Linked DNA regions of Homo sapiens. The protein of the gene in region 1 interacts with the protein of each later gene in a biochemical or structural test. Each region holds a gene or a part of one and is shown on either strand. Other genes may lie near its edges. The genes, in order: FBLN2, HSPG2, FN1 and ELN.

What was found.
Region 2: the proteins of FBLN2 (region 1) and HSPG2 form a complex in vitro, tested with the Homo sapiens proteins (2 studies listed by BioGRID).
Region 3: the proteins of FBLN2 (region 1) and FN1 form a complex in vitro, tested with the Homo sapiens proteins (one study listed by BioGRID).
Region 4: the proteins of FBLN2 (region 1) and ELN form a complex in vitro, tested with the Homo sapiens proteins (one study listed by BioGRID).

The regions. Positions count from the first base shown.
Region 1 is NC_000003.12:13,551,305-13,559,329, forward strand, and holds part of FBLN2 (fibulin-2 isoform a precursor), read left to right. Parts: intron 1-8,025. UniProt on the Homo sapiens protein: Its binding to fibronectin and some other ligands is calcium dependent. May act as an adapter that mediates the interaction between FBN1 and ELN.
Region 2 is NC_000001.11:21,926,485-21,934,509, reverse strand, and holds part of HSPG2 (basement membrane-specific heparan sulfate proteoglycan core protein isoform b precursor), read left to right. Parts: intron 1-8,025. UniProt on the Homo sapiens protein: Integral component of basement membranes. Component of the glomerular basement membrane (GBM), responsible for the fixed negative electrostatic membrane charge, and which provides a barrier which is both size- and charge-selective.
Region 3 is NC_000002.12:215,369,790-215,377,814, reverse strand, and holds part of FN1 (fibronectin isoform 1 precursor), read left to right. Parts: intron 1-1,140; coding exon 1,141-1,317; intron 1,318-2,096; coding exon 2,097-2,186; intron 2,187-2,421; coding exon 2,422-2,601; intron 2,602-4,403; coding exon 4,404-4,493; intron 4,494-5,439; coding exon 5,440-5,906; intron 5,907-7,382; coding exon 7,383-7,521; intron 7,522-8,025. UniProt on the Homo sapiens protein: Fibronectins bind cell surfaces and various compounds including collagen, fibrin, heparin, DNA, and actin. Fibronectins are involved in cell adhesion, cell motility, opsonization, wound healing, and maintenance of cell shape.
Region 4 is NC_000007.14:74,044,378-74,052,402, forward strand, and holds part of ELN (elastin isoform a precursor), read left to right. Parts: intron 1-844; coding exon 845-916; intron 917-1,810; coding exon 1,811-1,840; intron 1,841-2,318; coding exon 2,319-2,390; intron 2,391-3,297; coding exon 3,298-3,339; intron 3,340-3,764; coding exon 3,765-3,824; intron 3,825-4,125; coding exon 4,126-4,179; intron 4,180-7,372; coding exon 7,373-7,462; intron 7,463-7,546; coding exon 7,547-7,606; intron 7,607-8,025. UniProt on the Homo sapiens protein: Major structural protein of tissues such as aorta and nuchal ligament, which must expand rapidly and recover completely.

The DNA.
Region 1 (8,025 bases):
TTGTGATGGTGGCAGACACTTCCTGCTAGGCTGTGGGGGACGGTGGTATGGGGACCCCGTGAAGCAAGAGCTCATGCCAGAGAGCATTCTCCGAGGCAGGCTTTATTCATCACTTTTCTTCCCAGATCCCGACATCCCTCCTGCAGGGTGGAACTCTTGCACCTATTTAAGAGACGGGGAAGGGGAGGTAGAGAAAGGGCCTCCCAGCAGGCAAGGGGGAGAGCTGGGGTTCAGCCCAGGATCTTTTCCCTCCAAAGCAAAGCTCTTTGCCCCTCTTACTGAGCCACTAGTGGGAGGACTTGGTCTCCTTGGCCGTGGGGGGAGTGCCCTGAGCCCATCCACACCTCACACGCAATAGGTGCTTCGTAAATGCTTGGGGCATGCTGATGGTAAGTGAAACTGGGTTCTCTGCAGCAAATTCGGGCCTAAGGTGAAGATTGCACAGCCACTTGACCTCCATCTCTTGACCTCGTGATCCGCCCGCCTCAGTCTCCCAAAGTGCTGGGATTACAGGTGTGAGCCACCGTGCCCGGCCCCTCCTTTTTTTTTTTTTTTTTAAAGACAGGATCTCGTCCTGTCTCTCAGGCTGGAGTGCAGTGGTGTGATCACAGCTCACTGCAGCCTCAAACTCCTGGGCTCAAGTGATCCTCCAGCCTCAGCCTCCCAAGTAGTTGGGACTACAGACGCACACCAGCCAGCTAATTTTCTATTTTTTGTAGAGATGAGGTCTCACTTTGTTACTCAGGCTGATCTTGAACTCTTGGCCTCAAGTGATCCTCACTCACAGCAGGTGCAGGTGATTGGGTGTGATGAGGAGCTGCTGGTGGATTCTGGTTTGGGGAGGGGTGGGGTCTAATTGAGATCCTAAAGGTCCCTTCCCCCACACTGCTGCTGGCAGGGAACAGGCTGGAGGGCAGCTGTGGGGATCCATGCAGCTTCCAGGTGAGAGAAGTTGGGGCTTGGATTAGGGCAGTGGCAGCATTGGAGGTGAGAGTGGTCAGATTTGGACTGACTTTGCAGGTGGGGCTGCCAGGATTTCTTGATGGATTGGAAGTGGAGTGAGTGAAAGGGGAGGCCAGGGTGAGGCCGGCTGTCCTGCCCGGTGGTGGACGTAAACACCATGCATGGCTTCTGGTCCTTAGCAGCCCTCTGTCATCCAGTTTCCTTCCCCAGGTCCCCGAGTGTGGGTGGTGCAGGTGTCCGTGTGGCTGCAGGCAGCTCTGCCTCCAGGGCGCCTTCTGAATGCTGGGGCTGCAGAGGTCTACCCTCCCAATAGACCAGACAGAGGCGCTGCTCCTGTATGCTACAGGGGCAGAGGGGACCACAGGGCTGTACCTCCAGCCAGGCATTATAGGGTGGTGGGAGCAGTGGGTTTGTGGCTTCACCTCGGGAGGGCTGGGAGCTGTGACTGGGTGTTGTGTGGGGGCGGCCAGGGAGGGGCTCCCTGGAGTTGGCGTTCCTGCTTTAGCAGCTCTATGAAACCCTTTGCCAGGGAGTGTGCCCAGGGCCTTGGATTCTCTTCATCACCCCACAGTGCTGGCAGTAGCCTCTGGTGTGGGCCAATGCTGTGCCAGGGGCTGGTGTACAGAGGAGCGGAACACAGGGCCCCTTTTAAGGTCATCCCCAGGGGTGCCTGCATGGGTTGCTCTGAAATGCTTTGTCGGGGCCATCCTGGAGGAGAACGCTGAAGCCATGGGAACTGAGGAGGCATCTAGCTGAGCCTGGGTGGTCAGGGAGGGCTTCCTGGAGGTGGCGCAGGCACTGTGATATGAAGGTACAGGGGTGAGGGGCACCTGGGGACAGAAGAAAGCCTGGCTTCTTTCAGAGTGGGGGCTTGGAGGAAGAGTGGGAAGTAAGGCTGGCAAGGCCAACTAGACCCTGAAAACGGAGGCCCTCCAGTCCTGGTCTGCGAGCGAGCAACAGGCAGCCTCAGGGCGTTCCGAGCAGAGGAGGCGCGGCCAGACTGTGAGGTTGAAGGGTCCCTCTGCAGCCCAGGTGTAGGAGTGGGCCTGGAGAGGACAAGGCGGCAGGTGGGAGACCTGTGAGAGTGACAGGGCCGGGAAACTGAGGCGCAGAGTGGGGCGTGCTTGCCTGCAGTCACATAGCGACTGAGGAGGAAGAGCTGGGACGGGAGCCAGCTCCGTCCACCTCCAGGTCCTGCCTGGCGAGCTGCCCTCGTGTACGGGGCACCACTGCACGCCCACACCACAAACTCGCCTCAGCTGGGCACGTCCTTTCCCAGGGCCCCTCGTGGGTCAAGCCGTGCGTCATTTTGTGCCATTGTCTTCAGTTATTGGAATTTGGAAACGTTGCAGAAATGCCTCTCTCTCCCCTCATATATGGAGATTGTTGCAAAGCAAGTGCTGGTTTGGGGAAAGGTTATTTCCTTCCTCGAGGGTGGGGAGCCTGGCTTTCCTGAGAGGGGCTGTATTGTAGGCGGCCAGTGCGTCCCGCCCAGGTCTGTGTGCTGGTGAGGAAGTGGTGCCACCCACCTGTGCCGGGCCAGGGATGTGGAGGGGAGCACCCATGTGCTCAGGCAGACCCTGCCAGTCCCAGGTCTCACACCTTGTCGGGCTTCTGGTTGCTCATCTGTGAATCGGGGGCGCCCCCCTGGCTATGCTGACATTGTTGCCCAGGAAGAGCCTTGAAACAGGAGGAGGGCTCTGAAGTGTGATGAGGCCCAGCTGGGCGCGTGGGGAGCACCGTGGGAGTTGAGCATTGCCTGGGCCTGAGCCCCCGGAGCCTGCATCATGAGGGATTTGTCTCCTATCCTTAGCTTCTCAATCTGGAAAATGGGCCTGGTGGTAGGGGCCCCCAGTAGGGTTGGTGTGAAGGCTGAAGGATGAATGGAGAGCCCCAGGCCCACTCTGGGGAGGCGGACAGTGCTGCTGGCCGTAGCTGGTTCTTGAGTGTGGCTGAGTGCAGCCACCTGTGTCTCCCGTGGCTTCTGTCTTCTGGCCACGGAGACACCATCATCTGTGTTGGGGCCAGCCCTTGGGCTTGTGATCGGGGTACCCCAGTGCTTGATAAGCCTCCCAGAGTTCTTCCCTCCTTAGCCTGGGACCCCCATCCTGGCCCTGAATTCCCAGCCCCAACCTTGGTCCCAAGTTGAGCTTTTAGATGATCCAGAAAGTTCTGTTCTTCTTAGAGTCTCCTCAAAATGAAAACACATCGTCAAAAAACATTGATGAGCATGCATGCGCGTGCCCACACACACGTTCTCTCTTTCTCTCTGTCTCTTGTCTGTCTCTGAAGATCTCGCTCATCACTGTGTTTTCTTAGACAACTTCCCTAGTCCTCGTGGTGGTTGGTGTTGGCTGAGCATCTCAATGTCCTCCCTCATCTCTGCTCCCCTGCATGGCTGTGGAAACAAATTAATTTCACCGTTTTGGCCCATGGGCATCCCAGGGGCCCTGATGGCTGTTGTCTGATTATGGGGCTGGTAGAGGCAGAGGGCTTCTACGGGGACCTGTGCACTTTCTTGGGGAATAAGCCAGAGGGTGTCAGCTTCCTTTCTGACAGAGTGAGGATGAGTTTCACCACCGTGTTTTCGGCTGCATCCTCCTACCTCCTGTCCTTGACATCATACTTAATAACTTAATGTTATTTTAAAAAATCCCTTCCCTGTTTTGCTTATATTTACTTTTTTTTTTTTTTTTTTTTTTAAATACTGAATTTTACTCTGTCACCCAGGCTGGAGTGCAGTGGTGCGATTCCGGCTCACTGCAACCTCTGCCTCCCAGGTTCCAGTGATTTTCCTGCCTCAGCCTCCCGAGTAGCTGGGACTACAGGTGCGTGCCACCACACTGGGTTAATTTTGTATTTTTAGTAGAGATGGGGTTTCACCATGTTGGCCAGGCTGGTCTCAAACTCCTGACCTCAGGTGATCCACCTGTCTTGGCCTCCCAAAGTGCTGGGATTACAGGCGTGAGCCACTGTGCTTGGCTGCTTATACTTACTTTTAAAGGAAACCTTTGATCACAACTGTAGACAGAAATCAGGATCACTTGTCCTAAACCAGCAATACCCATAAAAATAAATATGGCACTAAAAATACAGTGCTTAGCATCTTAGCCACCTTGTATGCCCTGCCACAGCCTTGAGCCCGAGTGAGTGTTCCCTGTTTTTTTTTTATTTATTTTTATTTTTATTCATTTATTTATTTTTTGAGATGGAGTCTCGCTATGTTGCCCAGGCTGAAGTGCAGTGGCGCCATCTCGGCTCACTGCAAGCTCCGCCTCCCAGGTTCATACCATTCTCCTGCCTCAGCCTCCCGAGTAGCTGGGACTACAGGCGCCCGCCACCATGCCTGGCTAATTTTTTGTATTTTTAGTAGAGACGGAGTTTCACCGTGTTAGCCAGGATGGTCTCGATCTCCTGACCTTGTGATCCACCCGCCTTGGCCTCTCAAAGTGCTGGGATTACAGGCGTGAGCCACTGTGCCCAGCACCCTGGTTTTTAAAAAGAATGGTTGGCAAGCGTCTGAGAGGTGTGGGAGGCACACCCGTGCTGTCTAGAGACGGTCTCCAATAGCCAGATTGGTTCAGAGGGATTCGCGGGGACATTTCCTCACAAGATCACCGAGCGTTGGTGCTTGTCCCTGAAATCAGCTGTCCTTGGAACAGTCATCTCTATCCCTGCCCAGGAAGTCCCCTGTGGTAGGGGCGTCACATACCTCACATCTCCTGGGGCTGCCTTGGCATGTTTCGTGCTAGGCTGGGGTTGATGGAGGAGGCCCCAGCCCTCTAGCAGGAATGTCTTCTCTGAGACCAAGTGTCTGGCTCTCAGGGAGTGGCCATGTCCTCTGTGCCCCCAGCTCCGTGCCCTAAGACTGTCCTGGCGGGTTCCGGCTGCTATAACAAATGTCACAGATGAGTCGGGGAGGAGATTGAAGATGGACATTTATTTCTCAGTTGTGGAGGCTGGAAGTCTAAGCCCTAGATTTCGTTCCTGGTGAGAGTTTTCTTCCCGGCATGCACGTGGCTGCCTTCTTGCTGTGTCCTCACAAGGTGGGGGGTGGGAAGCGGCGGACGGAGAGAGAGAGAGAAGGGAAGAGAGGGAGGGAGGGAGGGAGAGCTAGTGAGCTCTGGTCTTTCTTTCTGTAAGGACACTAATCCACACATGGGGGCTCCACCCATGTAACCTCATCTAAACCTCCTAATGGGGGGCCCCACCCCCTGATACCATCCCACTGGGGTCAGGGCTTTCACATAGAAATGTAGGGAGGACACAGATGTTCAGCCTGTAACAGACTGGTTTAATGAACTGCTGAGGATGGAAACACTGTAACACCAGCTGCCAGTCCCTGTGTGACCCCAAGGCAGGGTGTGGTGGGGAGGCCATGGCTTCCTGTGCATGGGATGGGAGGAGTGACCCCTCTTTGGCCCTAGACGTTGGGGTTCCCAGGGTCTGGTTGGGCATCAGCACATGACACTGTAGCCCACCTATGACCTGGGCTTGGTCCCCCACAGTGACTTCGGAAGTTGGCCTGCCCATTGCTGGAAGCAGGGGCCCCTTTGCACAGGCTTGTCTGTGTCTGAGGCTATTCAGGAGACGTAGGGGCCCCACTACATCCTCCTGGAAGGACTAGTGATCTGTCAGCCCTGGGTCAAGTTGCAGCCACCAGGACTCCCTCACGCCCCATCTTTCTTTTGTCTCTGCCTTTCTCTGTGAGCCTGGTTGATTCTCTCGAAATGAGGCCCGCCACATGGCAGGAAATGTGCCCACCTTCAGAACTTGCTGTTTCTTCCTCTGCAGGTGGTCTGTGCTTTCTTTTATTTCCACTTCAAGAGCTCAGGGAGGAGCTGTGACCAGCCCAGCCTGGGAAGAACATCTGCCCTGGGCCAGTCAGCTGTGGCTGGGGAGGGTCAGGAGGTCATGCGTTGATGTGGCCCCAGGCGCATGTCTGGAGCCATTCCCTGAGCCTGGGGACTGAGCGAGGCAGCCTGCTGCCCTAGGAGGGGTCTAGTCTACTGCAGGGACACATAACCCCAGCAACTCAGACATTTTGGGGTTAAGTCAGCCATGAATACAAGAAGGTGGTTCTTCTTTCTTTGTTTTCACAAATGTCAGGATAATTTTGGTTACAGGTGATAGAAAGTACAATTTCAGCAAAAAAGTCATGGAACTAAAAAAATACAGGGTGTAGCTTCAGGCATGGCTGTATCCAGGGCCTCTGCAGATGCCATCAGGACCGGGTCTCCATCTCTTGCTCTGCTGTTCTCTGTGTTCCATACTCCCAGGCAGGCTCTGCCGTGTGGTGGTCAGGTGCCCCAGCAGCTCCAGGCTCACCCTCGAGCTCAGAAGCTCTGGAGCAAGGCAGCCTCCTCCCAGGAGCATCAGCATGGGCCATGTGACTGGGTCGTGTGACTGCTCTGACCTGTCACTGTGGATGGGGCAGGGACTCCTCTCATTGGCCATCCAGCAGTCCACGTAGCCTGAAGTGTGAAGGGGGGTTCCCCAGAGGAGAAAGGCTGCAGTGATTAGACCCACTGTGCAGATGAAAGCATTGCTGCTCAGAGGGTCACATGCTCCGAGGTGCCCAGCAGCCTAGTGGCAGGGCTAGGTTCAAATTTGAGCTCTGATCTCTGGGAGTCCAGAGCTTGGTCCTGCTGGCTGTCTCCCTTGGCTTTGGCAGCAGGGGCTGACTGCCTTGGGGGCCTCCAAGGCTCTTGAGCCCAACGGTTATACCACAGACTGGGCCAGACCCCGCTGTTGGTTGTACACTGGCCGCCTCACTGGCAGCCCTGAGAAATTCCTAAATTTCAGGGCCGTGCAAATAAATTGGGCACAGCAAAGGCCTGAGGGACTCGCAGAGAGACTGGGCTGCCCGCTCCCCTGGCTGCTGCCTCCTTCCAGATGCTGTGGTGGCCAAGGGAGCCTGGTTCTGCCGTAGGCCGGCCCCGCCTGCCTGTCTCCATCGCTGTCTGTCTCTGGCTGTCTGCTTGGCTTTCGGTCTGTGCTTCTCTCCATCTCTGTCTTGGTCTCTTTCTGTCTCACTAATGGATCTCTTTCCTTGTCTCTGTCAGTCTCTGTGTCTCTCTCTGCCTGTCTTTTGCTGGCACCACTCCCCCCACCCCGCCACCCAAGTCTAGGATCTCAGCCCTTTGTGAGACTAAAAGGCGGACGCAGGAGTGAAAGTGCCTCTGTATGAAAGGTGGACACGTACCTTGGTTGTTTAGGTCACTTAGCCAGTGACTAGCCAGGTGACTTCAGGGAAGCCTTTTCTGTTTCTGAAGGCCCTTCTGGGATACTCACATTCATAATTCATCCCATCCTCTCTGCCAGCCCTGTGCTCGGGCCATACGGATTAATTAATCTACCCCTCTCCACTCACCCACCCATCCATATACCCACACACCCATCCATCCACCCGCCCACCCACCCATCTGTTCACTTACCCACCCATCCACCCACCTACCTACTTTTTTAGCCACCCATCCATTCACTCGTCCATCCATCCATCCATCCATCCACCCATCCACCCACCCACCCACCCACCCACCCACCTACCTACCCATTCATCCATCTACCTACTTATCCCACCCTCAGGGCTTGGCTTTAAAGCATGGGGTGGGATTTGGGTGTTCAGGGTTCTAGGAGAGTTTCAGGAGAGAGGGCATCGCAGGTTGAGCTAATGATGAGAGAAAGATAAGGGGTTGGGAACTAGAGAGAGTTTTCCAGTTTAGCAGGAGTTGGGTTTGTGGAGGACAACAGAGGGGGATGGGTTAGGAAAGCTAGGTGGGGTTAGTTGGTGAAGGGCTTTGAATGTCTCCGTTAGGAGTTTTTTCTTTATCCTTGGGCCACAGGACTTCAGCCAGGGGTCTGTGAGTGGACTGCAGGGAGTCTATGAAACTCCCTCACATAGCAGTTTTAGGTATGTGCCCATATGTCTGTTAAGGCTCTTGGTTGCAAGGGACAGAAAACCTGGTCCAAGTTAGGTTAATCAAAAGGGGTTCATGTCATTGTGAAGTTCAGTTTTTCAGTTAGCTTCAGGCATGGCTGGATCCAGGTGCCAGGCAGCTA
Region 2 (8,025 bases), on another chromosome or scaffold:
GGCATAAGCCATCATGCCTGGCCTGTCTCTGAAGTCTTACAGACCCAAGTATGAGTCTCTGGGCTGCGGTTTCTGGCTGTGTGATCTGGGGCGAGTTCCTCTCTCTGAGCCTTAGTTTCCAAATCTGTACAATGGGGTTGAGGAGTTTGTTGCAAGTCAAAAATGAGATCAATTCCTAGCCCAGGCTCCCAGCACACCTTGGACCCTCTTTGCCTGCTACCCTTGCTCTCATCTGCCCTTCAGTTTGGTCCGGAGCCAGTGGCTTATGGGGAAGGGTTGGGCACAGCAGCAGGGTGAGATGGGCCTTAGGGAGCTCCAGGCTTCCCCGGGACGGGGGACAGGACCACAGGAAGCTGATCTGTGATTAAGTGTGGGTGTAATTTCAGCTGTTGGGAGGTGAGGAGGCTTGCTGGAGGAGGGGGCTGGGCCTGGGTGACTCGGCAGGCCTTGGCCTGCTGACCCCTTTAGGGCGGCCCTGCAGGGGACAGGCGTCTTGAGGGAGCCTCGGTGGTGATTAAGGTGTTTTCCAGGGCCTAGGAGGGAAGTCGCTGAGATACCTGTTTCCTGCCTCAGCTGGATTTCCTCACTGGGGAGGCTGCCAGCTGAACTGCAGGAGCCTCCCCTTCCTGGCGGTCCCTCAGCCCTCCTCCACGCAGCCAGCTGCTCTGTCACCTGACACTAGCCTACTTGTTCCGTACCTGCAGCCGGCACAGGATGGGGTTTTGAGTGTGCCCTGGACATTCCCGGAGGGAAGGAGGGCAGGCTGCAGGTCTGTCTGCAGGGTAGAAGCTGGAAGGGGCAGAGATGGACCACCCCCCCATCCCTTAGGCCCATTTCCCCCTGTCTGGGGAGTTGTGGCCCCTGCCTGGCTTGGCCCGGGCCTGCTCTCAGGCTGAGCGCAGACAAGTTAGGATCTGTGGGTCTGAAGCCCTGCCCGGGAGACGGTGGAAAGAAGGTGGCAGGAGGTGACTGGGTTCAGGGCCCGGAAGACGGGTGAGCAAAGTGGAGGGGAAGGAGCTCTTGGGGTGCCAGGCTGGATGATGACACAGTAATACGGGTACTTCAGACTTACCCAGTACCCACTGTCTGCTCTGAGTTTCTCAGTGAATCCTCCCATTCACCTGTGTTTCCTGCTCACCACCTCCCTGCGGTGCTCAGAATTAGGTCCCAGCCCCTGACTTAATATAGCCTACGAGGCCCTGCAACACCCGGCCTCCTGCCACCTGCTCCTCTCAAACTCCTCCAGCTATACCAGTCTTTGTTTCTTTTTCTTTTCTTTTTTTTTTTTTTGAGACAGGGTCTCACACTGTCACCCAGGCTGGAGTGCAGTGGCACAATCACAGCTCACCGCTGCCTCAACCTCCCACGCTCAGGTGATCCTCCCACCTCAGCCCCCTGAGTAGCTGGGACTACAGACACCCTCCTCTACACCTGGCTAATTTTTGTATTTTTTATAGAGACAGGGTTTTGCCATGTTCCCCCAGGCAGGTCTCGAACTCCTGGGCTCAAATGATCCACCCCCTTCGGCCTCCCAAAGTGCTAGGATTATAGGCGTGAGCCACTGCACCCAGCCTTTTCTTTTCTAATGAATATAAAAATTTAAAACAAATAGAGATGGGATCTTGTTGTATTGCCCAGGCTGGTCCCAAACTCTTTAACTCAAGCTATCCTCCCACCTCAGCCTTCTGAAGTGCTAGGATTATAGGCATGGGCCACCTCGCCTGACCAAGGCTTTGTTTCTTGAGCATGTGAAACACACTCCCACCTTAGGGTCTCTGCGTCTGCTGTTCCTTCTGCCTGGGACATTTGTCCCCGTAATATCCATATGACCCTCTCCCTCTTTCTGGTCCTTACCACTCTTCCCATAATGGCTGTCTCCTTAAACTGCTTTATTTTTGTTCTCACAATTGTCTGGCCTGTATTTGTCTGTATTTGTTTATGTGTTTATCTGCTTCCTCCTGCTCAGTTTAAGTTCTACGAGAGCAGGACCTCATTTGTTTTTGTTCACTGCTGTATGCTTAGCACCTGGCAGGTAGTAAGTGCTTAGTGAATATCTTTGTCGAATGTTTTAAGCTGTAGCTACTAGCCTGATCCCCATTCTCTAAGCAGAGGACATTGAGGCACTGAGAGGTTACGTAACTTGCCCAGTGACTTACATATCCACACACTCAGAGATGCTGCAAGCCAAGTTTTGAATCCAGACGAAGCTCTCCTAATCACGCCACGTACTGCCCCATGTGCTTGTCGTGGGCAGTCAGTAGATATTGCTACAACTTGTCACAGATGTTGATTAAGAACTCTGGTCCCAAGTAGTACAGGGGCTACCTCAGGCAAGGAATATCAGGGATTGGCTCGGGGACAGAAGCTCTTAGGTTGGGTATGCCTCAGTGTCCGTGGGGTCTCCTAGGGACGCCTGTGCCTGGAGGGGAAGCCTAGGAACTCTAGGGTGGTCATTTTTAGGTTTGTTAATTCATTAATGTTCTCATCAGATATTTCCTGGGACTCTACAGGCAGTTGAATTTATCCAGGGACTTTTAGGCCTGAGTGGGCCAGGCTGGCCCTGCCCAGTGTGGGAGGTCAGGGGCCCCTGCCCCTGCCATGCTGCTAGTGGGGGAAGGGGAAGAACACCCTCCTGGTTGTCCTGTGTGGAGCCTGCGCTGTTTTTTTCTGGCTGTTCCCTGGGGGCTCAAGGTTTAGGGTGAGTCTGCAGAGCTTCAAGGGCTGCCTGGCCTTGGGGTGAGAGGCTCAGGAGGGAGGGCAGGAGGGCCTGCCCAGGCTATGGAAAGATCTGGAGCAATGATTCAGAGGCCACTTGGAGGCCAGAGGTGTGGGCTCTGCACCCTCAGACTACTTGGGGTATATGGGAAGGGTTCCCAGCCCTGGCCTGTTGCCCCCCTCCCCTTCACCCAATCCAGTCCCAGCTATGAGGGGTCAGACTGGAGGAGGAAGTGAATATGACTTGGTTCCCCGGCAGCTTCCCAAGTATCTGCTGGGCCTACCTCTCCCTGTCCCAGGGCCTACCCTGGCCTTTTTCTCCTCTCGCTCCTGCTCCTGCCAAGAAGAGGGAGGCTGCGCCGAGGGTCCCGGCCCTGCTGGAATGTTGCTTCCGCCTGGGCCTTGGCCTCTTTGGCCCTGCCACCCCCTCCTGCTCCCGGGGCCAGCTGCCCCAGCACCCAGAGCTGGCTGACTGAAACCCAGAAGTATGTGTGGAACTCACTTCGCGGGGAGCCGCCGGCCTCACTGCCCAGCCTGGTGGCGTCAGGGCTGTGTCAATAGCAGCCTTGAGAGGGGTGTGGCTCGTGGCTGCTGGGGTGGCCGGGTCGGGGGTGCTGTCATGAAAGCCCTGAGAACAAGGTGGCTCTTTGAGGCCTGGGAATGTGAGGCCTTTGAGTCTTGCTGCCCCCAGAACCACTCTCCCTTCCCTTCCATGATGCTCATCTGTGCCAGGCCTGCAGGAACCTCAGAGCATCCCTGGAGGCATCTGTGGCATCCTGAGATAGCCTTAGGACCAGCTCCTAGCTCCTGACCAGGGCCCATTCCCTGAGCCATGAAGGAGGGTGTCCTGTTGCTCTGGGTTTTAGGGGAGTATCTGGTGCGCAAAGCCTTGCAGAGTGTGTTGAATGAATGAATGAACAAATGATGTATGTGATTAAGCGTTTTTTAAAATTCATTTCACAAATATCTGTGGAGCATCTTCTATGTATCTGACTGTGTTCTAGATCTTTTTTTTTTTTTTGAGATGGAGTCTTGATCTGTTACCCAGGCTAGAGTGCAGTGGTATGATCTCGCCGCACTGCAATCTCTGCCCCCCAGGTTCAAGAGATTCTCCTGCCTTAGCCTCCCAAGTAGCTGGGATTACAGGAACACGCCACCACGTCCAGCTAATTTTTGTATTTTTAGTAGAGATGGAGTTCCACCATGTTGGCCAGGTTGGTCTTGAACTCCTGACCTCAAGTGATCCACCCATCTTGGCCTCCCAAAGCACTGGGATTACAGGCGTGAGCCACTGCACCCGCCCTGTTCTAGATCTTGAGGTTACCGCAGAGAATAAAAATGTCAGATTCCTTCCTCTCATGTCACTTGCGTTATAGCTAGTGCAGGAAGACAGACAATAAATGAAATACATCAGGTGGTGATAAGTGCTCAGAAGAAAAAATAAAACAGGGAAGAGGGCAGTGAGTGATGAGGCGGGGTAGGTAGGGTGGGGTGGTAGGAAAAGCCTCTGATAAGATAAATTTGAACTGAAGGAGACCTGAAGTAAGTGAGCGGGTGAGCCTCGCAGATATCAATGGAAAGGGCATTCCAGGCAGAGGGCACAGCTAGTGCAGAGGCCCAGAGGTGGGAGTGTCCTTGGCATGTCTGTGGAAAAGCAAGGAGGCCCGTGGGGCTGGAGCAGCATCAGTGAGGGGGAGCATGGTGGATGCAGCAGGCAGGGGGGTGGCAGAGGGTGATCAGCAGAGCTTTGGCCATGGGAAGGACCTTGGATTTGCGTCTGAGTGAATTGAGAAGTCACTGAAGGGGCCCGGTGTTCCATAGGATTGCTTTGGCTGCTGTGTGGAGAGGAGCACGGGGAGGGTCCAGAGCAAAGGCAAGGAGGCCGTGACCCAGGACAGACGATGGGAGCTCAAGCTAGGACCACGGAGGTGGGAGATGGTTGAATCCCCAGTACATTTTGAAGATGGGTCACCAGGATTTGCTAGTGGGTTGGATGTGGGGCGGGACAGAAAGAGAAGAGTCCGGGATGCCTCCACAGTCTTTGGCTTCAGCATCCCGAAGGATGGAGCTGCCACTACCTGAGATGGGAAAGTTCCAGGAGGAGTGGGCAGGAGGTGGAGTCCAGAATTCTCAGAACAGTTAATTTATTTGTGTCTTCTCTTACGATCTCTTGTTTGGACAATAAAAATTCCTAAAAAAAAAAAAAAAAAAACCGGCAGGTGGGCCAGGAGTGGTGGCTCACACCTGTAATCCCCACACTTTGGGAGACCAAGGTAGGAGGATCACTTGAGCCCAGGAGGTGGAGGTTGCAGTGAACCATGATCTTGCCACTGCGCTCCAGCCTGGGTGATAGAACGCGATCCTGTCTCTTAAAAAAAAAAAAGAAAAAAGAATGGCAAGTGATGGAGGGGACAGCATGGGTGGGGGTTGGACTGGCTCACATGCCTGGCAGTCATCCCCCTACCCATCTCCAGCCAGGAGCTCCCCCGTCCCCACCCAAGCTGGGGCCTCTGCATTGGCTTATGGTGTAGGCGGAGGGGATCTTGCTGAGTGTTCATTTGTGGAGTTGCAGACTCTGCCTTAGAACTCCACAGCCGGAGCTCATGGCTTGTAGATTTATTCTTACCCCCTCATCTAGAGTGGAAGCTGCATGAGGGCAGGGACTTGGCTTTGTTCATTGCTGTTTGCCTGGTGCTAGGCAGATAGTAGGTGAACACATTAAAACTTCAAGTGAGGCTGGGCACAGTGGCTCACAACCTGTAATCCCAGCACTTTGGGAGGCCAAGGCGGGCGGATCACCTGAGGTTGGGAGTTCGAGACCAGCCTGACCACCATGGAGAAACCTCGTCTCTACTGAAAATAATAATAATAAAAAAATCAGCTAAGCATGGTGGCACATGCCTGTAATCCCAGCTACTCAGGGAGGCTGAGGCAGGAGAATCACTTGAACCCGGGAGGCGGAGGTTGTGGTGAGCTGAGATCGCGCCATTGCACTCCAGCCTGAGCAACAAGAACAAAACTCCATCTCAAAAAAAAAAAATCAAGTGAATAAAGGATGGGCGCGGTGGCTCACGCCTGTAATCCCAGCACTTTGGGAGGCTGAGGTGAGCAGATACTTGAGGTCAGGAGTTCGAGACCAGCCTGGCCAAGATGGTGAAACCCCGTCTCTACTAAAAATACAAAAAAGTTAGCCGGGTGTGGTGGTGCATGACTGTAGTCTCAGCTACTCAGGAGGCTGAGGTAGGAGAATCGCTTGAACCTGGGAAGCGGAGGTTGCAGTGAGCTGAGATCATGCCATTGCACTCAAGCCTGGGCGTCATTGCGAGACTCTGTCTCAAAACTACAAACAAACAAACAAATTCAAGTGAGCAAATTAATGGCTTTGAGGAAGCCAGCAGGCCAAGAAGGCCCAGGCTCCTTGCTGAGATTGGAAAGGGGCGTGCTCTGGCCCCTGCACTTGGGAGCTGCCTGCCCAGCCATGCTCTCTGCAGGGCCCCAGAAGATGTGGGACAAGCTGGGATGTCCACTCTGCCCTTTTTGACTTGTCTGTGTCCTCATTGGTCTCAGAGCCACTTCCCTGGGCACTGTGGTCAAGGGAAAGATGTGGGCTCAAAAGGCCCTGCCTTCAAGTCTTGGCCCAGCCCTGACTGGCTCTGTGACCTTGGGCAAGTTGCTTTACCTCTCTGAGCCTCAGTCAAATGTGAAATGGGGAGGCCTGCTTCCTGGTGGTTATGAAGTAACCAGGTGGATGCACCTTGCTCAGTGCCTGGAATGTGGCAGGTATTTGACAATCCGTGATTGCACTAAGTCTCGTTCCTGCTAAAGACAAGGCCGGTGGAATATCTGAGGCAGGGTTCCCAGGGCACAGCCGGGCACGCCTTCTCTATGACCCAGGTCCTGTACTGGGCTTGTTGAATGAATGGCTGTGTAAGGGGATTGTCCATTCCCTGGGCCTCTTTCGCAGTCTCAGAGCTCCGGGTGTAACTGCCTCTGATCTGTCACTGCCCCTCCTTCGCCTACCGAGGCCGCAGCTGTAGGACAGAGTCCATCCTTCCACCCTGATTGCTCCTTCCTGGACTGGGAGAAGGAGGGGGGCACACCCCAGGGTGTGGCCTGGGAAAGGCTGGAGTCTTTGGACGCCTTGTCCCCTTCCCAGATGTGTGCAGTTGGTGGGCTCTGAGCAACAGGAGGTGTGGCCAGGGGCTCCCATGGGTGCAGAAAGGATGTTCGTGCATCCTGAGGGTAGTGACAGTGGGGGGGGTGGGGGATGTCCTGGGACCCCATCCTAGCCCTGTCCCCCCCTGGCCTACACTGGAGGAGGCAGGACCTTGCCTGGGGAGCTCTGGGCCAACCTGCAGTTGGTCCTTACTTGGTGGGATGTGGGGCTGCTCGACTCTAAATCTGGCTCCCGTGGCCTCAGAGAAACAGCAGGACTCAGGAGAGAGAGACACACAGGCCTGGGGATCTCACCCCACCCCACCCTATGCTTTGGGCTTGGGCTGTTGGGTAGAGATGTGTCCCCCCTCCCCATCAGGCGGGTCACACCTAGGTGTTTTGTAACATTTGGCCTCTTTCCCCATCTTTCTCCCATCCCAGTCGGTGGGGAAGGGGAGGCCTGGCTGGGGCCTGAGCCTGGGGAGGACTTCAGAGGTGGCCTCGGGTCACTCCACAGATGCTTCTCCACGGGTGGGGCTGGGATTCCCAGCTGCCTCTGGCCCCTTCCCAGCCCACCTCCGGGTCCCTGCCACCACCTCCCCACTCCCTGCGCCTGCCCATGGCTCTCTCCCAGGAAGCCGGCTCCGGCCCCCACCTCCTGGTCCTGGCCTCCCCCTCCTAACTAACCCCAGCTGACTCAACCCTCTCCTTGTTTGGCGTTTCCAATTTTCAAATAGTTGGGAACTGGGATCATGCCTCTTCTTGGATCCCTTACTGGGCTGGATGGATTGAAATTCTGGCCTGATAAATCCCAGCCCTAGTGGCCTCTACTCTATCATTTTCTTTCTCTCTTTTTTTTTTTTTTTTTTTTTTTTTTTGAGACTGAGTCTCACTCTGTCTCCCAGCCTGAAGTGTAGTGGTGCGATCTCGGCTCACTGCAACCTCTGCCTCTCGGATTCAATAGCGATTCTTTTGCCTCAGCCTCCCTGGTAGCAGGGATTATGGATTACAGGCATGCACTACCACGCCTGGCTAATTTTTGTATTTTTAGTAGAGACAGGCTTTCACCAGGTTGGCCAGGCTGGTCTCAAACTTCTGACCTCAGGTGATCCACATGCCTCAGCCTCCCAAAGTGCTGGGATTGCAGGTGTGAGC
Region 3 (8,025 bases), on another chromosome or scaffold:
TGTTGATATTATGGACTATGACTGACATCTAGTTTATGCTCTACTTGTTAGAATTTGTTTTCATAGAGCTAAGCTTGGGGAGACCCCACTGGCTTCTGCTATATCTTAACAATGCATATTAGGCCATTCTTGCATTACTATAAAGAAATACCGGAGACTGGGTAATTTCTAAAGAAAAGAGGCTTAATTGGCCCACAGGCCAGCAGGCTTTACAGGAAGCATGGTGCTGGTATCTTCTTGGCTTCTAGGGAGGCCTTGGGAAGCTTACTCATGGTGGAAGGCCAAGGGGGAGCAGGCACATCACATGGCTGTGGCAAAAGCAAGACCGAGAGAGAGAGAGAGTTGGGGGGGGAGGACCTTATACATTTAAATGACCCAGTCTCTTGAGAACTCACTGTCATAAAGAGGGCACCAAGCCACAAGGGATCTGCCCCCATGATCCAAACACCTCTCACCAGGCCCCACCTCCAGCATTGGAGATTACAACTCAACAGAGATTTGGACAGGGACAAATATCCAAATTATATCACAGCACAGTAACCATTGGACCAAATCAGGCTTAGATTCTAGTCTTCTGTTATATCAATACCTTGATGTATGCCTTTTCAAAAGTCAGGTAAAGTGTCAAAGTTTTATCATTTATAAAAGAGGGATGGCATTGTACCTGTTGAGAGAAAATACAAAATACTTGCCGTAATATTAGACACACACACACACACACACACACACACACTCTCTCTCTCTCTCACACACACATACACACACACACACACAAAATTGTTAGCTGGCCATGTTATTGTAACTCCTACCACACATATTTTTACATTATAATACATTAATAATTTTAATATTTATTGAAGTATTTGTAGATACTATAAAGCCAGCCCTGGGAACCACTGGTAGTATCTATAAAGCTTTTCAGCTCTTCAAAATAAAATGTCTGAGAGGTAGATATTTTCCTATTTTCTAATTACAGTTGACCTTTCTCTCTGAATGCCAAAGGAGATAATCTACACATTACTAGTTATATATTTCTTGAAATGGATGAATTTGATATATACCAAGGAAACGTTTTAAAATACCAAAACTTTACATGGATGAGCCAAGCAGGCACTAATCTCTAGCTATGCTCCTGTGCAGATGTCAGCCCACCAAGAAGGGCTCGTGTGACAGATGCTACTGAGACCACCATCACCATTAGCTGGAGAACCAAGACTGAGACGATCACTGGCTTCCAAGTTGATGCCGTTCCAGCCAATGGCCAGACTCCAATCCAGAGAACCATCAAGCCAGATGTCAGAAGCTACACCATCACAGGTCAGGGAACTCATTGCACTAACCACATTTGTTAACAAATACCCACAATGTAAACGGGCTTATTAACTGTTCTACGACTGACACTGATAAAATTTATTTTCAGTGTTATCATCATAACCCAGTTTTAGAACGTTATTTTCATGCTATGATCAGAAATAGTTTTGTCCTTTGAATGCCTGATTTTGTGTAATATTTGTCATGGAAATTGCGTAAGTGTCAATCAACAAGTTTGATCTTCCATCATTGTGCCCTTTCTTATTTAAAAAATTGTAACATAAGGTTTAAAACTAAAAGAAATAAAAAACAGTGATGTATAGATCTTAGCATTAAAAAGCATAGTTAATATAAAAGTAAACAATACCACTTAATAAAGGCCAAAATTGTAACCGAAGAATATTCAATATCTGAGGTCTTTTTTAGCTTTTTAAAATTGTGATTCCAAGGCTCAACTATTGACCATCTGATTACGGTAAAGAGAAAACCTCAATAAGTGGCTGACCCCCATTCTGCAAGAGGGCCTCTTCCAACATAGCATTTTTGCATTCCAGAATTTACTTTACCAGTGTCCTTGTCTGTATCAGTGATTCACTTTCGAGATATGTTTCTTGTTAACAGTTAACATCCATAGCATGCTCTACTTTACTGTTCAAATGTGGACCACTTTGGTAGTCTATATAAATATGGGATGATAGAAGAACCCAGAAAAATTGCAGGCTAGCTTGAGAATTCTCCTAGTAAAAAGCAAGAACTGTTAAAAATCATCTCTTCTCAAATCCCAGGTTTACAACCAGGCACTGACTACAAGATCTACCTGTACACCTTGAATGACAATGCTCGGAGCTCCCCTGTGGTCATCGACGCCTCCACTGGTAACTATACCTTCTACTGAGGAAATGCCATTGACTTGTATGCAATCAGTTTCATGAACTCAAAAAACAAATGTGAGGCGTATATTTTTGTATTATAGATTCCAGAGAATCTTGTTTCCGGTTTACAGTATTCTCAGATTCTTTTAAGTGTGTTTAGAACGGCTCGGGAGAAAAGTGTGGGAGTAATTTTCTTGGTTATTTGCCTTCTTAGAGACTTAATTTTGTTTTCTTTCAGCCATTGATGCACCATCCAACCTGCGTTTCCTGGCCACCACACCCAATTCCTTGCTGGTATCATGGCAGCCGCCACGTGCCAGGATTACCGGCTACATCATCAAGTATGAGAAGCCTGGGTCTCCTCCCAGAGAAGTGGTCCCTCGGCCCCGCCCTGGTGTCACAGAGGCTACTATTACTGGTATTGCTGCTTCCATGCTGTCATTTTCCTTCTTACTACCTAGGACACATGAAGTCCTTAGCAAACTCCCACAGCGTCTTTGATACTGTGTCATGAGAATGCGAAACTCTGTTCCTGATAACCTCAAAAAGCATTCTCTGTGTAGGAGTGGTAGAGCCTAATACATCCCAAAAGGCATGAGTGAAGGAAAATGCAATTTCAAGACTGTACTAATGGCATGACTAGACTCATGTTTTCCTTTCGCTGCAAGTTTGCCAGATACCTGTCAATTCAGTCCTGGAGAAAGATATTTTTCAAAGCATACTAGCTGATTGTGATTCTGTCATTACACTCAGCTCTCTATAGATATGGCAATCTTGCAGGACTTGCCAGTGCACCACCTGCCATTGACCTTGTTGACCACTATCACAGGATAGGTCTTGAGGCAGAGCAGTCCCAACCACCCACATTGGAAGAATGCCTGGAATGGGGAATAAGAGTTGTCTACCTTGGTGGGAAAGACTATAAGCCTCTAGTATTATTTTTGCCCAAGAGATGAAATATTTAAACTATCTGTATTAGTCTGTTTTCATACTGCTATAAAGAGGTTTAATTGACTCACAGTTCCGCATGGCTGGGGAGGCCTCAGAAAATGTACAATCATGGTGGAAGGAAAAGCAGGCATGTCTTACATGGCAGCAGGAGAGAGAAGCACACAGGAGGAACTTCCAGATACTTACAAAACTATCAGATCTTGTGAGAACTCACTATCATGAGAACAGCCTGGGGGAACCACCCCATGATCCAATCACCTCCTCTCCTCAATACATGGGGATTACAATTCCAGATGAGATTTGGATGCAGACACAGAGCCAAACCATATCAGTCTGTATAGAGTATCACCTGGACTTTAAAATTCCCACAGAACATACAGACATTAGAAGGAGACACTGGCTTTTTAGAATTGGGGGGAACAGGAAAATAGAAGCAGACATGAGAGGAATTGAACTAGACACTTCCCACAGAGGCTGCACAAACACTGGCCAATCTCTCCTACCCTTCACTTGCCTTTAGTTTCACTTTTCATTGATCTGCCACTGAGGACTGCTTGGTTATTAGGCCTAAGTAGATTCATGTATATAATCTGCAGGACTCTCTTTCAAATTTATATTCCAGTGGTGGTATATGATGCTGATAGATTTTCTTAAATTCAAAAAGGCAAATAAGACCACGTTAAAAGAATACCCTGGAAAGGCCAGGCGCGGTGGCTCACGCCTGTAATCCCAGCACTTTGGGAGGCCGAGGCAGGCAGATCACAAGGTCAGGAGATCGAGACCATCCTGGCTAACACGGTGAAACCCCATCTCTACTAAAAATACAAAAACAAAATTAGCCAGGCGTGGTGATGGGTGCCTGTAGTCCCAGCTACTCGGGTGGCTGAGGCAGGAGAATGGCTGAACCTGGGAAGCGGAGCTTGCAGTGAGCCGAGATAGCACCACTGCACTCCAGCCTGGGTGACAGAGCCAGACTCCATCTCAAAAAAAAAAAAAAAAAAAAAAAAAAGAATACCCTGGAAAAGTTAGCCAAAAAATGTCTATTCAGGCGTCAGATATGATAGTAAGATAATTAGTTTGCGATGCGGACTTTATATGCAGGATATTTGGGTGTTTATGGAGGAAAAGTGAAGTCGATTTTACCTTCAAGAGGCCAACAGCCAGCTGGAGAGGAAGTGCCTGCTCCCAGTAGCGTCTGCTGGTGAGACCGACTTCCACTTGACTAGCTGAGCCCATTGACATAATGTGATGGTTCTATTCTCCCTTCAGGCCTGGAACCGGGAACCGAATATACAATTTATGTCATTGCCCTGAAGAATAATCAGAAGAGCGAGCCCCTGATTGGAAGGAAAAAGACAGGTAAGAGTATCTTGCAGGTAACAAGGAGAAAGATAGGACAAAACTAATAACAAATGAGCAATCTTGCAATATGAAAAGGTTCTCCATGTTTTGATGCATTTCTTGTGATTTTTTTTATCTAACAGCATAGTGTATATATTGTATTCTTTAATAGGAGAAATAATTTAACATGCACTGCAGAGTTTGGTTTTATTTTTTTTCTTTACTACAGCCACTCAATATAAAGCCTTGTTATTCACCTTTTAAAAATTCAAACAAGATGTTAAAATGTAAAAGAAGAGCTATCATTGCTCTTCTTTTATACCTTCTGTTGAATTTTAAAATGTTTCCTTTTTTAAAGGAGGGAGAGAAACCTCTCACATTTATCTTTATTTGGTTTCTACAACTTAGAGCTAAATAATGTCTTACTTTTGCATCCAGTTTCAGTTAATTTCAAGAAAATGTGTATTCCTGATATAGGAAAATTTCAAAAATGAACATGTGTGTTTTATCTATTTTTACCATTTCAAACCATGAAAAACTGTTGAGCCAAACCTCTGTAATTCTCATACTTATGACACTGATATGATTAGTCTGGATTCTACTTCCTACAACTTGCTTCTCAAATTTAAAAAAGAAAGAGAGAAAGAGAAAGACTGCACATTTCAGTTCCATTAGGTCTAATTTGAGCAGAGGCAGCTTCTACGGGGCTCAGCGGTTTAAAGCTGTGTGTATGATAAATTCATACTAACACTTTTTTCTTTCTAAACTATAAAGAAACCTTTGAGAAAAATCCTAAAGATTTCTTTCTGGAAAAAGTGTTTTGTGATCTCAGAACTGCTCATTTTCTGGTGGCTTTTATCAAATTGATGAACAGTCATTGTTGCCTGAATCGATTATTATCATTGCTGCTACTTCCTGGAGCTTAATGCGCTTTGCTTTTTTGGCTCTAACCTCTCTCGGCTAGACGAGCTTCCCCAACTGGTAACCCTTCCACACCCCAATCTTCATGGACCAGAGATCTTGGATGTTCCTTCCACAGTTCAAAAGACCCCTTTCGTCACCCACCCTGGGTATGACACTGGAAATGGTATTCAGCTTCCTGGCACTTCTGGTCAGCAACCCAGTGTTGGGCAACAAATGATCTTTGAGGAACATGGTTTTAGGCGGACCACACCGCCCACAACGGCCACCCCCATAAGGCATAGGCCAAGACCATACCCGCCGAATGTAGGTGAGGAAATCCAAATTGGTCACATCCCCAGGGAAGATGTAGACTATCACCTGTACCCACACGGTCCGGGACTCAATCCAAATGCCTCTACAGGACAAGAAGCTCTCTCTCAGACAACCATCTCATGGGCCCCATTCCAGGACACTTCTGAGTACATCATTTCATGTCATCCTGTTGGCACTGATGAAGAACCCTTACAGGTAATTAATTGTTCTCTTCACTTCTCATGGGGCAGCACAGAAAGGAATAAGTTAGGTAACTGAAGTGACCAGCCCTCGAATAAAAAGTGGCTTCATGGCCGGGTGTGATGGCTCACGCCTGTAATCCCAGCACTTTGGGAGGCCGAGGCAGGTGGATCATTTGAGGTTAGGAGTTCAAGACCAGCCTGGCCAACATGGTGAAACCTCGTCTCTTGAAAAAAAAAAAAAAAAAAAAGTGGCTCCACTTTTAGAACCTCTTAGAAGATGGCACATTTAAGCCCTGCTTTTTTTTTTTTTTAAATCCCAATATGGCTCTACTTTGGAGGACATACCAGAGAGTCACTAGCTTTTATTTCATAGAGAAAATGAAACTATTTCTCTTATTCTCACACATTTGAGGTTCCTTTTTGAGTAAGATAGATGATTCTAGAAAAGAAAGATATTCTACCTGAATTTCCATTTGTGTGCAGAAGTCTAAAACACTACCTTTACGATTTGTCCTTGAAGAACCCCACTATCTACAACATATCTAAAGAAAAAAAAAAACAGGCGAAGCTGTGCATAGCAGCTGATAAGTGATTGATTCTCTAAAACGTATATTATTTAATTTGTGTTGACAGTATCCATTTTTTTTTTTCCCCGAGATGGAGTCTTGCTCTATGGCCCTGGCTGGAGTGCAGTGGCGTGATCTCGGCTCACTGCAACCTCTGCCTCCCAGGTTCAAGCAATTCTCCTGCCTCAGCCTCCCAAATAGCTGGGATTACAGGCATGTGCCACCGCACCCAGCTAATTTTTGTATTTTTAGTAGAGACGGGGTTTCACGATGTTGGCCAGGATGGTCTCGATCTCCTGACCTCGTGATCCGCCCGCCTTGGCCTCCCAAAGTGCTGGGACTACAAGCATGAGCCACCCACTACACCCGGCCCACTGACAGTATCAATTTTTATTGTGTTGTTACTTTTAGAAAGTGGCAGAATTTAAAAACTGACAACACTGTAGGAAATTTATGAGCTTAGAAACATGAGTTTGAGGATTTGCCCAACTGTTTTAAGGACTCCACACTGGGGTCAGATGTCACCTGGAGGAGCATGACCGTGTCTCCCATATAGCGCAGTGTCCAGGTTTTATGTGAAGCAAACATGGCCAGGGCTTCCAGAGGGCTTATGCAGACCTGCGACTGAAGCAAGATCAATGGCAGGCCGTCTCTAGTATTGTCGAGGGCTCCTGTTAACTACGGAGCACGTAGGTAGATTGTTGGCAGGAAAATCTGGCAGGAACGATGGCCCCTATCCTTGTTCCATTTCTCTCCTCAGCTGGTTAGGACCACTATACCCTCCCTCTTTTTTTTTTTTTTGTTTTTTGTTTTTTGTCTTCCTTTGCTTTGTTTAAACAGTGAGGGTTATTGGTAAGAGGAGAGCCCGTGTCATTCCTCACTATAATGCTTTCTCTCTGCTTTGGATGTACCGATAATTGCAGTTCAGGGTTCCTGGAACTTCTACCAGTGCCACTCTGACAGGCCTCACCAGAGGTGCCACCTACAACGTCATAGTGGAGGCACTGAAAGACCAGCAGAGGCATAAGGTTCGGGAAGAGGTTGTTACCGTGGGCAACTCTGGTATGTAAACACGTACTATTTAGACACAGGCTCCCCTCTGCTGTACACCAGAGATGGGCTTTTCTGTTGACTGTACCTTTGTTGCCATTGTCTTTTTATCTTTGGGATTTAATGCAACACATCAACATGAAATAAATGAGCAACTTTATATTAAATTAATCTCTCCCCCACCTCCTGCCATATCCTGTTGTCTTCACAAAATGCATACGTAATTGACAGACTCTCAAATGGTGATATGATTATAGATCTGGAAGGGATTTCAAATATTATTTAGTACAACACTCTGAGTCCTTACTTCTGAGTATCTGAGTTGATATAGGGCACAGGTTTCCTGATGTCTTTTCCCAGACCCTCTCCATCTCACCATGCTGCTGTCCTCTTGAGTGATTAAATACTGAAACGATTACCTATAAAGAAAATACCCCTTCTGCAGACATGGGGACAGTTGGCTTTTGCTCCTGATATAAAATGCTACCAACATTGTGCATTTCTGTCTGCAGAGAA
Region 4 (8,025 bases), on another chromosome or scaffold:
GGCTAACAGACATAAGGTCCCTGGCAGTCCGTCCATCCCCTGAAGGTCAACCAGCCTTCCTGCACCCCACCCAAGCCCTGATCCCAGGCACAGACCATCATCACAGCCCGAGGCGGGCCCCCGAGGACAGATCCCAGTGTGACCAGCTATTTCCCAAAAGCTGTGAGTCACCAAGGGGCCACCCAATGAGTCTGCCCTGCAGGAGACCCTAAAGAGCTGCCCCTCACCCTCCTTTCCCCTGCCAGGGCCTGACCACCCCACCCAACATGTGACCTCCTGAATTCCCCCAAAAGCCCAGATTTAGGCTGTTATGTGGGATTTGCTGATGGAGTGGCCCTTCCTCCCTCTCTCCCCCACTACGCTGAAAGCCAAGGCTGCCCAGCCCCAGGGGAGACAGGAGAGGTGGAAGACGCTGGCATGGTCCCAGCTGTAGCTGGATGGCTGCTTTGGGGGTCTGGGTTGTGAGCGAGAGCCCCAGAGAGCATGGGCCTCCCTGGTCTACGGGCGAGTGGCACCGCGCAGCAGCTGTCCCTCTCTTTACCTTTTCTGCGGAGGGTGGTCGAGACGGCTTTTGTGATTAACTCCAGCATAGAGATGAGGCTGACTGAGGCACCAGCTCACATGGCTGGGAAATAGGATTAAAACTCAGATCTTCTGACCTTGAGCCAGACAGGGAAGGAAAGTCAGCACTAAACAGGTCCTTTCTCCACCCACCCCGTGAGCCGTGCCTGTCACTGACAGTCAGTCCCAAGGGAGGTCAGCTGGGGGACCCGAGGAGGGGAGGGGTTCCCAGCAGGGCCTGCAAGGCCTGCCTTCCTACACTCACTGCTTTGTCCCCCGGCAGGAGCTCGGTTCCCCGGTGTGGGGGTGCTCCCTGGAGTTCCCACTGGAGCAGGAGTTAAGCCCAAGGCTCCAGGTATGCAGCTGTCTGGACAGAGGGCTGATGGCAGGGACTCTCCAACCACCTTCTGGCCCCGGGTGTGAAATGGGGTGGGATCCTGGACTGGCTCAGGGCCCTCTGGGTGACACTTTTTATGTTCCAGCCCTGGGCAGCCTGGTGCTGAAAAACCTCAGAGTGTGGCTGGGCACACTGGCTCACACCTGTAATCCCAGTATTTTGGGAGGGTGAGCTGGGAGGATCGCTTGAGCCCAGGAGTTAAAGACCAGCCTGGGCAACATAGCAAGACCTTATCTCTACAAAAACATGATTAAAAAATTAGCCGGACATGGTCACACACACCTATGATCCCAACTATTCAGGAGGCTAAGACAGGAGGATCTCTTGAGCCCAGGAGATCAAGGTTGTCGTGAGCTATGATCACACCACTGCACTCCAGCCTGGGCAACAGAGACCCCGTTCCCCCGCAAAATAAGAAAGAAAGAAAAGAGGGCCAGATGCAGTGGCTCATGCCTGTAATCCCAGCACTTTGGGAGGCCGAGGTGGGCGGATCACCTGAGGTCAGCCTGACCAACACGGTGAAGCCCTGTCTCTACTAATAATACAAAAATTAGCTGGGCGTGGTGGCCTGCACCTGTAATCCCAGCTACTTGGGAGGCTGAGGCGGGAGAATCGCCAGAACCTGGGAGGCAGAGGTTGCGGTGAGTTGAGATCACCCCATTCCACCCCAGCCTGGGCGACAAGAGCGAAACTCCATCTCCGAAAAAAGAAACCCCAGAGTTCATGTGAGCGCAGCATGCGATGACTGGTCTGGGAAGAACTGGCCATTCCTTGGGCCTCCTGGCCCCTTGGTGCTGTCTGGCCCAGTGTCCACAGTTCCAGGGCTGTAGTGACAGCTTTTTATCATTACAGGTGTAGGTGGAGCTTTTGCTGGAATCCCAGGTGAGGCAAGGCTGGTGGGAGAAGCAGGGTGGCCAGCCAGGCAGAGGCTCTGGCGTTGGGAGGGGTTGGGCACCCAAGATCCCATCCAAGCCTGCCCAATTTCTCCCACGCCTGCAGAGCCAGGTCTTGCAGTGGCTGTAGCACAAAGTGGCACCCATCCCAGGCCTGCTCCCCCCACTGGCATAGCAGCCCAAAATTCAAAGGAGTCCAGAAAACCCTCCAGCCTGTGCCAAGGGCTGCAGGCCCAAACTGGGGCCCAGGCCCCAGGAGGGAGAGAATCCCGTAGCTTCCTGGAGGAAGTGGCCTGTCACTGGGAATTTCTCAACTGACCCATGATGGAGATTCAGGGAGTCCCTCGAAGCAGGATGGTTTCTGGATGCTGTAGCAAGCTCCTTCTGTCTGAGCAGAAAGTGGAGTGGGTGGCGGAGGGTTTGGAAGGGGGTGCTGGGACCTGAACTTGCTCTCTTTATTCCCACAGGAGTTGGACCCTTTGGGGGACCGCAACCTGGAGTCCCACTGGGGTATCCCATCAAGGCCCCCAAGCTGCCTGGTAAGTCAGAGGGACGGTTCAAGATGCACCACTCGGCCGGGTGTGGTGGTTCACACCTGTAATCCCAGCACTTTGGGAGGCTAAGGCGGGCAGATCACTTGAGGTCAGGAGTTCAAGACTAGCCTGGCCAACATGGCAAAACCCCGTCCCTACTAAAGATACAAAAATTAGCCAGGTGTGGTGGCATAGGCCTATAATCCCAGCTACTGGGGAGGCTGAGGCAGGAGAATCTCTTGAACCCAGAAGGCAGAGGTTGCAGTGAACTGAGATCGCGCTACTGCACTCCAGCCTGGGTAACAGAGTGAGACTCTCCTCCAAAAAAAGAAAAAGAAGAAAAAAAAAATGTACCACTCACTGCACCTCCCTGCACAGAAGTCAGCCTGGGTACAGGTGTCTCTGGTGGCAGGGAAGGGGTGTTGAAGCCCCTGTATGGTCACCAGCCAAGGAGAGCATGGGAAAGTCATCTGCAGGTATTGAACTCACACACACACGCTCATGCACAGAGACCCATAGTCCCGATCTGAAGCTATTAGGCTGGTGGAAAGGAACACGGTTCATTGGAAAGATCCCTCTAACATCCACCCACTCGTGCTCCCGCCCCTACCTCTGCAATCAGCTTAGACAATAAGATGCTTTCCACTGAGGAGGGGGTGTAAGGAAAATACTCAGACTCCAGGGCCATGATGGGGCTTGAATTTGTAGGGGGATGGGTGTTCCATGGGCCTCGGGGGCAGAGGTGTCCTCTCCCTCCTTCACCCAGCGCCTTTGCTCTCCTGGGAGCAGCTCAGGACCCTGATGTGGGAGGTCTCAAGCTTTAGCACCTGTGGGGGTAGATCTGTCCACCCAGGTTGGTGGGAGCCCAGCAAGGCATGGGGCAGCCCCTGAGTTTGCTCTGTCCTCTCTCCAGGTGGCTATGGACTGCCCTACACCACAGGGAAACTGCCCTATGGTGAGTGAGACCCTTCTAGACTGTGGGCTTCCAGCTCTTTCCCTCTCCAGGGTCCTAGCAAGGGTGCTGTGCTTCCAGCCCTGGGCCAGGAGAGCACCTCGCTGGGGCAGGGTTGGGGTCTTGGAGTGGGAATCTCAGAAGGAAAGGGCATGGAATTTGGACTCAGCATGGGTCTCCATCCCTGCCCTCCCACCTATCAATAATGAGACCTTAAGTGAGCTGTGTTGCTTCTTTGAGCCTCTGTGTTCTCATCTGTAAAATGGACATAACAACTCCATACATGTGTTTGTATTTGTTTTCACTCTGGCTGGGGGTGACAGGTGCAGACTCAGGACAGCTTGGGCCCCGAGGGCAGAGCAGGGGGAGGGGGAGGGCAGCAGTGGTGATGTCTGCACAGATGACCATCAAGCCTCTCTGTTTTGCAGGCTATGGGCCCGGAGGAGTGGCTGGTGCAGCGGGCAAGGCTGGTTACCCAACAGGGACAGGTAAGGAAAGCCTCACGTCACTTCCAGCCAAGGGAGCACTGATCTTCCAGGCTCCAGAGCCCTGGGGTGGGTGAGGTTCCCTCCTGAAAGCAGCAGCCCACCCTGCATCCAGACCCTGGTCCAAACCTGGAGCAGGATCCTGGGGGAGGAGTGGGGCAGCTCCATCAGCCTCTGCCTACTCTGAAGCTCCCATGTATACCCACATGTCAGTGGATTGGCTCTCTTGGGGCTGGGAACAAGTGGGCTCTGGAGATACAGGAGCACTGTTTCAAGGTCTCTCCCCTCTGCTTCCTTCCCCCAGGGGTTGGCCCCCAGGCAGCAGCAGCAGCGGCAGCTAAAGCAGCAGCAAAGTTCGGTGAGTGCCCCTGGAGTCCCCACCTGGTGGCCTCCAGGCCCCTAGCCTCTCCATTCCCATTACTATTGACAGCCTGCCTCCAAAGTGGCCCCTACATACCCCCATTTACTCAAAATTTTCAACATCACCCATCTATCTATCCCTCCCTCCAACCATTCTTCCATGCATCCATGTATCCATTCATCCTTCCATCAATCTATTACTTTCTCCATCCCTCCCTCCATCCATTCCCATTCCTCCATGCATCCATCTATCCATCCATCCATTCATGTACTCATCTGCCCATCCATGCATCCATCCACTCATCCGTCCATTCATTCATCCATCCATCTCTCCCTCCATCCATTCATCCATCCATCCATCCATTCCTCCATGCATCCATCTATCCATCCATCCACTTATCTATCCATTCATCTACTTATTTACACATCCATGCATCCATCCATCCATCCACTCATCCATCCACTCATTCATCCATCCATCTCTCCCTCCATCCATTCATCCATCCATCTATCCATCCATCCATCCATCCATCCATCCATCCATTTCTCCATGGATCCATCTATCCATCCATCTGTCCACACATCCATCCATCCATTTATCCATCCACCCACTCATCCATCTATCCATTCATCCACCCATCCATCACTACCTCCCTCCATTCATCCATCCTCCATTCCTCCATGCAGCCATCTATCCATCCATCCATCCACTTATCCACCCATTCATCCATCCATCAATCCCTCCCTCCATCCATTCTTCCATCCATCAATCCCTCCCTCCATCCATTCTTCCATCCATCCATCCACGCATCCATCCATTCCTCCATGCATCCATCCATCTATGCACCCATCCATCCATCCCCTCATCCATCCATCCATTTATCCATCCATCACTCCCTCGCTCCATTCATCCATCCACCATCTATCCATCTATTCCCCCATATACCCATTCATCCATCCAACCATTCCTCCATGCATCCATCTATCCCTCCATCCATTCCTCTAGGCACCCATCCATCCATTTCTCCATGCATGCATCCATCCTTCCATCCATCCTTCCATCCATCCATCCACCATCTATTCCTCCATGCATCCATTCATCCATCCATCCATTCCTCCATGCATTCATCCTTCCATCCATCCATCCACCCATCAATTCTTCCCTCCATCCATTCTTCCCTCTATCCATCCACTCATCCATCCATTCTTCCCTCTATCCGTCCACTCATCCATCCATTCCTCCATGCATCCATTCCTCCATGCATCCATCTATCCATCCATCCATTCATCCATCCACTCATCCATCCATCCATTTACCCATCCATCCACTCAATCCATCCATCCATCCATCCATACATCAATCCATACATCAATCCACCCATCCATCACTCCCTCCATCGATTCTTCCATCCATCCATCTGCCCATTCTTCCATGCATCCCTCCATCCATTCCTCCATGCACCCACCCATCCATTTCTCCATGCATGCATCCATCCTTCCATCCATTCATCCATCCATCCATCCATCCATCTATTCCTCCATGCATCCATCCACCCATCCATCCATTTCTCCATGCATCCTTCCATCCATCCATCCATCCATCCATCCATCCATCCACTCACCCATCTATCCATCCATCCATCCATCTACCCATCAATTCTTCCTTCCATCCATTCTTCCCTCTATCCATCCACTCATTCATCCATTCTTCCCTCTATCCATCCACTCATCCATCCATTCCTCCATGCATCCATTCCTCCATGCATCCATCTATCCATCCATCCATTCATCCATCCACTCATCCATCCATCCATTTACCCATCCATCCACTCGTCCATCCATCCATCCATCCATCCATCCATCAATCCATCTATCCATCACTCCCTCCATTGATTCTTCCATCCATCCATCCATCCATCTGCCCATTCTTCCGTGCATCCCTCCATCCATTCCTCCATGCACCCATCCATCCATTTCTCCATGCATGCATCCATCCATCCATCCATTCCTCCATGCATCCATGCACCCATCCATCCATTCACCCATGCATTCATTCATTCATTCATTCATTCATTCATTCATTCTTTCCTCCATGCATTCATCCATGCCTCCTTCCTTCCCTCCCTCACTGCCTCCTCCCACCCATCCATATCAGAGATCAGGGACAAACAAGAGTTCTCTTAGAGAATATAGCCACTGTTGTGGGAGTCAAGAAACGGGAGGCATTTTTTTCTACCTGAGGAAAGTTAGAAAGGCTTCCCAGAGAAAGTGACATGTGATTTAGGCCTTAAAAATAAAGATGGAGCTTACCATGTGGTTAAAACAGGAAAGAGGAGGCCAAGCAGAGGGAATGGGTACCACGGTGGTTAGAAAGATAATTTTAGGTGGTGCATATATAAGCATTTAAAATATTTAATAGTTATGTATCAATTTAATGTGTACTATAAAAATGTTAACTCACTGCTCAGGTCAGTGAGTTCTTGGCTAGCATGGCTGCAGATGGAACGTGGTATTCCTGTGCCCGTGCAGTGGGTGGAGTGGGCATCTGTCCCCTGCCCCAGGTAGTGCCCACCTCAGGGTCAGACCACTAGGGCTGAAGTCCTCCTTCATCCTCAGCCCCAGGGAAGCCCTTTCCTTATCTCCCCACCAGCCCGAGAGAGCGAGAATGTGGGGAGAAGCCTGAAGCTGGGCCTCCCAGTGGAGGCCCCGCAGGCCCCCCTCCCAGCACCCGAGGCTCCTTGGCCCCAGCGGCTGGTGGGGACGGCTGCAATGTGGGAGCGGGAGAGCAGGGCTGTGAGGGGCTGCCAGAGCCAAGCAGCCAGGCGCTTGGATTACAAACTTGGCTGCATCTTCGGAACACAGGGAGAGGAAGTCTTGAACATTCCTGCAGGGGACCCTCTGGCCCAGGGAGCGGCCACTTGTGGTTTCTCAGTATGTGGCAGTGATTAGAATGGGATTTGTCTGAAAACATACAAGTCCCTTAATGAGTGTGTTGAAATGGACACTTTGGGGGAGAGTCAAGGAACAGTGGAGTGGGGTGGGGGCCTCCCCAGACAGGCCCATCTGGAGACACCCGGGCCCCATTCCTGGATAAGATCACACTGGTGAAAACGCCGGCGTCTAAGTGGCCATCCTGCCTGTCCTCAGGAGGGTCCTTGGGAAACTACATTGCACTGTCCCCATCTCAACAGGTGCTGGAGCAGCCGGAGTCCTCCCTGGTGTTGGAGGGGCTGGTGTTCCTGGCGTGCCTGGGGCAATTCCTGGAATTGGAGGCATCGCAGGTAACATCTGTCCCAGCAGGGGGCGGGTGTGTCCTTGAGATGGCCACAGGGCAAGGACCTCACCCTCTGTGGCTGTGTTTTCAGGCGTTGGGACTCCAGCTGCAGCTGCAGCTGCAGCAGCAGCCGCTAAGGCAGCCAAGTATGGTGAGTGCCTCCCGGGGTGGCAAGTCCACGGCTCGGGCCCCTGCATAGACCTCGGAGACCCTAGCCGCAAAGCCAGATGGACTTGGCCTTTGTTCCTTCCCAAATATGCATTGTTCATGCCTCCTTACCTTTGCCCCTTCTGATCACTCTACCTGAGATGCCATCTCTATTGTTTTGCCCTGATTAACTCAGCAGAGGGAGGGGACCCTGCAGAGGGGACATGGCTCCTCCCACTCCATCCCCTCCAGGGCCAGCCCACAGGTGTCTGCTGCATCAACTAAATGGGTGCCCAGTGGTGAGAATTCTGACTGTGCTTTAGGAATAGATCACATTCTAGCTATGCACAGTGGCTCACGCCTGTAATCCCAACAATTTGGGAGGCTAAAACCAGGAGTTTGAGACCAGCCTGAGCAACATAC